Linked DNA regions of Homo sapiens. The protein of the gene in region 1 purifies or fractionates together with the protein of each later gene. This does not show direct contact. Each region holds a gene or a part of one and is shown in the gene's direction. Other genes may lie near its edges.

The links.
Region 2: the proteins of TKTL2 (region 1) and GUF1 purify together in Homo sapiens (co-immunoprecipitation; one large-scale study listed by IntAct). This does not show direct contact.

The regions. Positions count from the first base shown.
Region 1 is NC_000004.12:163,470,945-163,474,974, reverse strand, and holds TKTL2 (transketolase-like protein 2), read left to right. Parts: upstream 1-1,220; 5' UTR 1,221-1,240; coding exon 1,241-3,121; 3' UTR 3,122-3,880; downstream 3,881-4,030. UniProt on the Homo sapiens protein: Plays an essential role in total transketolase activity and cell proliferation in cancer cells; after transfection with anti-TKTL1 siRNA, total transketolase activity dramatically decreases and proliferation was significantly inhibited in cancer cells.
Region 2 is NC_000004.12:44,691,916-44,695,428, forward strand, and holds part of GUF1 (translation factor GUF1, mitochondrial), read left to right. Parts: intron 1-2,496; coding exon 2,497-2,598; intron 2,599-3,513. UniProt on the Homo sapiens protein: Promotes mitochondrial protein synthesis. May act as a fidelity factor of the translation reaction, by catalyzing a one-codon backward translocation of tRNAs on improperly translocated ribosomes. Binds to mitochondrial ribosomes in a GTP-dependent manner.

The DNA.
Region 1 (4,030 bases):
CATTCTCCTGCCTCAGCCTCCCGAGTAGCTGGGACTACAGGTGCCCATCACCACGCCCAGCTAATTTTTTTGTATTTTTAGTAGACACGGGGTTTCACCGTGTTAGCCAGGATGGTCTCGAACTCCTGACCTTGTGATCCGCCTGCCTCGGCCTCCCAAAGTGCTGGGATTACAGGTGTGAGCCACAGCACCCGGCCCACAAATTTAGTTTTTTAAAGTAAGTAACTTTGTCTTAAAAATGATTTGTAGTAATAGTCATTAAAAGATAAACTGAGGCACATTAAAATATTAAAGCATTTATTTGACCATTCAGTGATTCATGAATCTGGTAGCTCCTGATAAAGGAGCCAAGGAGAAGGCTTTTATAGGGTGAATTTGGAAGCAAAGGAAAGATATTTGATTGGTTAAAGTGGAGTACTAGACTTATTTGGGTCATCCCAGTGGAAAGTCCCCAGTTAGAAGTTAGCTGGCAGTTTCTGATTGATTAAGCTTAAATTTCCTTTTTATCATTTACACTGATTTGGGTTTCCTTTCCTTAGGTAGGAACTCATGGAGCTGAAGCTACCTCAGCCTACTGGCCTTCTAATTATTTCAACACAGAAATAGTACTTTACGGCACACTGGAGTTGCAATTCTATTCTGCAATTGGGTGGTTTCAGATTTGTTCTTCCTATAAATTTTGGTCAAATTAGTCATTGCATTTCTTTCTATAAGTCTGAGATTCAGATATTTGGTTGCTCTGAGAAAGTCTCTGTTGAGATAGCATTGCCATACTGGTCAGATTGAAAGTGACTTTGTATCCTTTCTATTAATGTTCTGATATGAAAGAGTGATGACTCGGATATAGTGTTAATGCATTAAAAAAGCACAGCCTGACAAATCGCTTCCTATAATACACAGAAAAATGTCTAGTCTTGAATTTATAACACAGGGAAAGGTAAAAAATTTAATTATGCTTCCTAATGTTGAACATGCACGTGACAAAGTAAATACTAAAAATCCATTCAGCTGGGCGTGGACAGGGAGAGGGAACGGTGCACATCAGAGGGTGCAGGCTACTCCAACGTTTCCGTTTCCTCAGTCTCGCGGGAAGCTCCGTTGTGGGCGCCCCGGCTGGTGGCTGAGCTCAGGCCTTCAGGCAGAGGGGAGGCGAGGGCGGGGCGGTCACGTGAGAGCACTGCCGCGGTGGGTTGTGGGGGTGCTGCGGCGCCGTTTGCTTTGCCAAACCGACAAAAGAGAGATGATGGCCAACGACGCCAAGCCCGACGTGAAGACCGTGCAGGTGCTGCGGGACACAGCCAACCGCCTGCGGATCCATTCCATCAGGGCCACGTGTGCCTCTGGTTCTGGCCAGCTCACGTCGTGCTGCAGTGCAGCGGAGGTCGTGTCTGTCCTCTTCTTCCACACGATGAAGTATAAACAGACAGACCCAGAACACCCGGACAACGACCGGTTCATCCTCTCCAGGGGACATGCTGCTCCTATCCTCTATGCTGCTTGGGTGGAGGTGGGTGACATCAGTGAATCTGACTTGCTGAACCTGAGGAAACTTCACAGCGACTTGGAGAGACACCCTACCCCCCGATTGCCGTTTGTTGACGTGGCAACAGGGTCCCTAGGTCAGGGATTAGGTACTGCATGTGGAATGGCTTATACTGGCAAGTACCTTGACAAGGCCAGCTACCGGGTGTTCTGCCTTATGGGAGATGGCGAATCCTCAGAAGGCTCTGTGTGGGAGGCTTTTGCTTTTGCCTCCCACTACAACTTGGACAATCTCGTGGCGGTCTTCGACGTGAACCGCTTGGGACAAAGTGGCCCTGCACCCCTTGAGCATGGCGCAGACATCTACCAGAATTGCTGTGAAGCCTTTGGATGGAATACTTACTTAGTGGATGGCCATGATGTGGAGGCCTTGTGCCAAGCATTTTGGCAAGCAAGTCAAGTGAAGAACAAGCCTACTGCTATAGTTGCCAAGACCTTCAAAGGTCGGGGTATTCCAAATATTGAGGATGCAGAAAATTGGCATGGAAAGCCAGTGCCAAAAGAAAGAGCAGATGCAATTGTCAAATTAATTGAGAGTCAGATACAGACCAATGAGAATCTCATACCAAAATCGCCTGTGGAAGACTCACCTCAAATAAGCATCACAGATATAAAAATGACCTCCCCACCTGCTTACAAAGTTGGTGACAAGATAGCTACTCAGAAAACATATGGTTTGGCTCTGGCTAAACTGGGCCGTGCAAATGAAAGAGTTATTGTTCTGAGTGGTGACACGATGAACTCCACCTTTTCTGAGATATTCAGGAAAGAACACCCTGAGCGTTTCATAGAGTGTATTATTGCTGAACAAAACATGGTAAGTGTGGCACTAGGCTGTGCTACACGTGGTCGAACCATTGCTTTTGCTGGTGCTTTTGCTGCCTTTTTTACTAGAGCATTCGATCAGCTCCGAATGGGAGCCATTTCTCAAGCCAATATCAACCTTATTGGTTCCCACTGTGGGGTATCCACTGGAGAAGATGGAGTCTCCCAGATGGCCCTGGAGGATCTAGCCATGTTCCGAAGCATTCCCAATTGTACTGTTTTCTATCCAAGTGATGCCATCTCGACAGAGCATGCTATTTATCTAGCCGCCAATACCAAGGGAATGTGCTTCATTCGAACCAGCCAACCAGAAACTGCAGTTATTTATACCCCACAAGAAAATTTTGAGATTGGCCAGGCCAAGGTGGTCCGCCACGGTGTCAATGATAAAGTCACAGTAATTGGAGCTGGAGTTACTCTCCATGAAGCCTTAGAAGCTGCTGACCATCTTTCTCAACAAGGTATTTCTGTCCGTGTCATCGACCCATTTACCATTAAACCCCTGGATGCCGCCACCATCATCTCCAGTGCAAAAGCCACAGGCGGCCGAGTTATCACAGTGGAGGATCACTACAGGGAAGGTGGCATTGGAGAAGCTGTTTGTGCAGCTGTCTCCAGGGAGCCTGATATCCTTGTTCATCAACTGGCAGTGTCAGGAGTGCCTCAACGTGGGAAAACTAGTGAATTGCTGGATATGTTTGGAATCAGTACCAGACACATTATAGCAGCCGTAACACTTACTTTAATGAAGTAAACTAGGCTTATTTCTAAAAAGTCAAGTCTATTGGCTTTGGCCCAAAAGCACTGGTATCTTTGTATTAAATTCATGTTTATTGTCACAAAACCATTATTTATACCTATACAGTTGTACTGTTTCTTTTAAAGCAAAGCCATTTAACATCTTTCTTCATTCCTAATTTGGAAATTAAAGTTTACCTTTCTGTTAATCTATGTATAAATGTTACTCTGAGTTATTAATGTGGATTTTAAAATTGTAAGCAATAGAATAGGAAATAAAACAACTACCTAATACAAATATTTCTGATAAGACTACAAATATCTGACTGAGCTGGGGATTAAAGTAGAGGTAACTGTATCTTAAATGAGTATGATTTCCTTGTAAGTTAAAAAAATTGAAATTTAATTGTAGACTTCAATAGTCCAAGTTTTGAAGGATGTTTGAGCTTTTGTATAATGCCATTTATACCTGCAGTTTTACAGATAATGTTTGACTGCAGTTGCCTTGGAAATTCCTCCAAAGTTTGCCTTCATCTCTCCTCTACAGTTTGGAGGTGATGGTGCAGCAGTGGAACATCTCTTGATGCACCACACTACTTGTGTTCTGTGAAGTGATGAAAGTATAACTGGTTCTAGTTTGCACACTACACACATAGTTTTGTGAAGCTTCAGAAATGTTTTTTCTTTTCCTTGTGGCCAAACCAGTTTGTTAATCTGATTATATTCATCTGCTAATGATACTAAAGTTAATGTAATAAAGCATTTAAAAATCAGATACTTCAGTCTGTGCTGTGTATGTGGGATTTGATTTCTTCCTGATGAAATCCTAAATAAGGAGAACTTGTGTCTAAATAAGAAACAGAGAGAGTCATGACCCCCAGAAGCAAACCTGGAAAAAGGTTGAAGCTGGAGATAAGTTACTAGA
Region 2 (3,513 bases), about 120 Mb from region 1:
AATCATACTCTAAGGTTAGAATGACTTGGAACAACTTTATAGGTGTTACAGACTACTTGTGATTTGCTTATAGGAGAAAAGTTTCCTTTGATTTATTATCTAACTTTTATTTCTCTTTTAACAAAAAAAGTTAGTCCCCTTTTCATGAAGAGCTGTATTCCTTGTCTGTTAAGAATTAGACCTAATTTCAAAAATTTACCATAACCTCAGTGGCACTTTTAAAATGTATATTTATGTTATGCAATCTCAAGAGCATCTATTTACATTTGAAAAATAAAAGTGCATATTCAGTCTGTAAAAAATGTTAGATGTGCCGCTCCATTAGTGAACACTTTAATAACTTAGTCTTTTGAGGAACAGGTTGTCCTCATCACGAAAACCTTTGTGTATCTCATAGGAGTACATGGAGAAAAGCCAGATAAAAGTGAAAGGAGAGTTACTATTAAATAACAAATAAGAAACTCAGGGCATAGCATTCTGAGAGGCTGTTTTTTGTTGTTGTTGTTGTTGTTGGGGCATATAACTCTAGATACCCTCACTATGCCCTAAAATCTTATGTTACGGGATAGTATATATAGAAAACAGATGTGAAACATGGGGAAGCAGGAGGGGAAAAATGAACATTGACATCTATAAAACTCCCACACAGTGCATGAATGTTAATGTTAACATGCAGAGACAAATTCCAGTGTTTAACAAACATGCTACAGTGACTTGGAAGTTTAACTTTATTTAATCATCTTGTCAGTGAAGAGAGTTAGCATATATAATTCTTCTTACCAAGGAATCTTCATGTTCCTTTGTATTGAGAATTTTCTTCTACTTTGTCACCCAGTTTTTTCTTCTTCTATGTCTTCTTTCAGACAAGACCTTGAGCAAGTAAGTGGCAATGGAATTTAAAGTAAAATGAATTGAGGGGCATATTAAAATTACTAGAGTTGAAAGGAAGATTAGTAGGTTTAATGTTTATAAATATTTTTAACAGAAGTCTGTCAATTTTAGTTTGCATTTGGGTACTACTTTCTGAATTATAAGTGGTCTTAAAAAGCCTTGTCGTTTGGAAACTTAAATACATTTTGAATTTAATGAGAGAACATGATTTATTTTTGAACTACATAAAAATAAAATATTCCAGCTTCCAGCATTAAGGTAATTATGTTCAAGATGGATGTTTTACATAGGCAGTCAATTCCACACTTAACAGAAAGTCATCATAGACTATGAATTAAGATCAGGAAAAAACTTATTTCATACCAGGAGGCAAGAATCAACAGCAACTAGTAGCTTTTTGGAATTACAAATGTGTTTCCTGCATTCTAAGGAAACACTAGAATACCTATGTTTTCAATAGAGGTTAGGTATCAATTGGACTGCTTGGAAACAAAAACACAATTTTTATAATGATTTCTTTTGAAAAAATGAGTTAAGAAATTTTTAAGATTTTTAATATTTTGGACCACAACATAGCTGGAGCTGTAACAACTTCAAAGTTAAGGACCATGTCTGTTTTATTCTCTATTTGCTTTGTATTCTGTATGATACTTAACATGGTATCTTTCATACAGTAAATGTATAAGTGATGCTTCCTGAAGAAAGAAAGGATTTTAACAGTACTTCTGAAAATAATCTGTTAATAGAGTGTATTATTGTCACTTTATGACCTTCCTGCTGAAAATCTTTAGAAACCAAATATAATTTTGCAAGTCCAGGCACCAATTGTTTTAAAATTAAGACAATAGGAGTATACATATTCTTGTCTGTGATTGGGACAACTTGTAAGCCTAATTGAAATTTTCTTTAGACTTCAGTTTTATAAGTGAAACATTTAAATGTCTGTTTTGACTAACATTACAAGCTTTGACCACATTGTTAAAAGTAATAGCTGAAACTAAGTGCTTGTGTGTGCTAAGCTAGGCTCTGTTTAAACACTTATTATGTACTAGGCATTGCTCTAATTGGTTTACATGTATTAACTCATTTAATCCTCACAAAAGCCCTGTGAAGGGAGATGCAAGCTGAAGAGCCAAATAGGAAATCCAAAGGTCTCATTTATTAATGGCATTTTATGAGTGTCATAGCATTTATTTAAACATAGAGTTGTCATTGGTAATAGAAAGTTAAACAGAAACCCAACTCATGAATCTGAAAATGATCCATTAATAATATATAGTATTGTCCGAAGCCTCCCAGCTGCTGGGAACATTGGGAAGGCATGATATTTGTCTTCAATAAACCATTTTCTTTGTCAGGTTCACCAGCTTATTTTCCTTTCCCCTATAAACATATTCCCCTTGCTTTTGCCCTTGATTTAATAAACATAAAAAGATAACATTTAGATCCATTCACAAGAAACTGTATATGTAATATTTTGATGGAAACATATCTCTTTGGGGAGTGTAATGCGGTAGAAAGTAGACATTTAGTAAAGAGTAAAGAGTAATAAAGGTAATCTCTCAGGAAGTGTAATATTTATCACTTGGACTTTTTTCCTTTTAGTTTTGATTACGAAGATGCAGGCTACCAGACTGCAGAACTTGTAAAAATGGATATTCTACTGAATGGAAATACTGTAGAGGAGCTAGTAACTGTTGTACACAAGTAAGTTCAATAGAAACTAATCATGGAATGTGAAAATACTTTTGATATGTTTTTCATTTATTTTTGTTTGAGCAGCTGCATTTAAAAAACTTCTAAGGTAATTAAAATAGAGTTCACCCTACTAACTTTGCTTTCTCTTTTTTTTCCACACTTCTCTCTAGACTGCTAAAAATAGAACAGAGCTATAATAGTCAAAAAGAACAGTGTCATAGAAATGTTTCCCTTCACCATATTAAAAAAAGTTTTAAACATTTTATAATGATGGATTTAGAATTGGGAACAAGTTTTTTTGTTTTGTTTTGTTTTTTTTTTAGATGGGAGTCTCATTCTGTTGCCAGGCTGGAGTGCAGTGGCGCAATTTCTGCTCACTGCAACCTCCGCCTCCCGGGTTCAAGCAATTCTCCTGCCTCAGCCTCCTGAGTAGCTGGGACTACAAGCGCATGCTACCATGCCCGGCTAATTTTTGTATTTTTAGTAGAGATGGGGTTTCACCATATTGGCCAGGATGGTCTCGATCTCTTGACCTCTGATCTGCCCGCCTCGGCCTCCCAAAGTGCTGGATTTACAGGCGTAAGCCACCGCGCCCTTTTATATTTGTAAAAAAATTATAAAAAGGAAAACCCCCACGTGTTCAAGAAACAGCAGATTGGTTAAAATGAATTACAAAGCACCCATATTGTTATTTTCAGCCATTAAAACTTGTGGAGTAATATTTAGTGACATAAAAATGTCTGTTAAATATAAAGAGGGTAGAATATATCGTAAACACTGATCATACAAAAAAATGCAAAAAAGTGATTAGAAAGATAACTGTTTAAAATAATCATTCCAAAATGTTTAACCGTTTTCAGCGGGTAAGGAAAGAGAATCAAGAACAGTTTCTATTGTCTAATGTTGTATTTCTAAATATTCTGT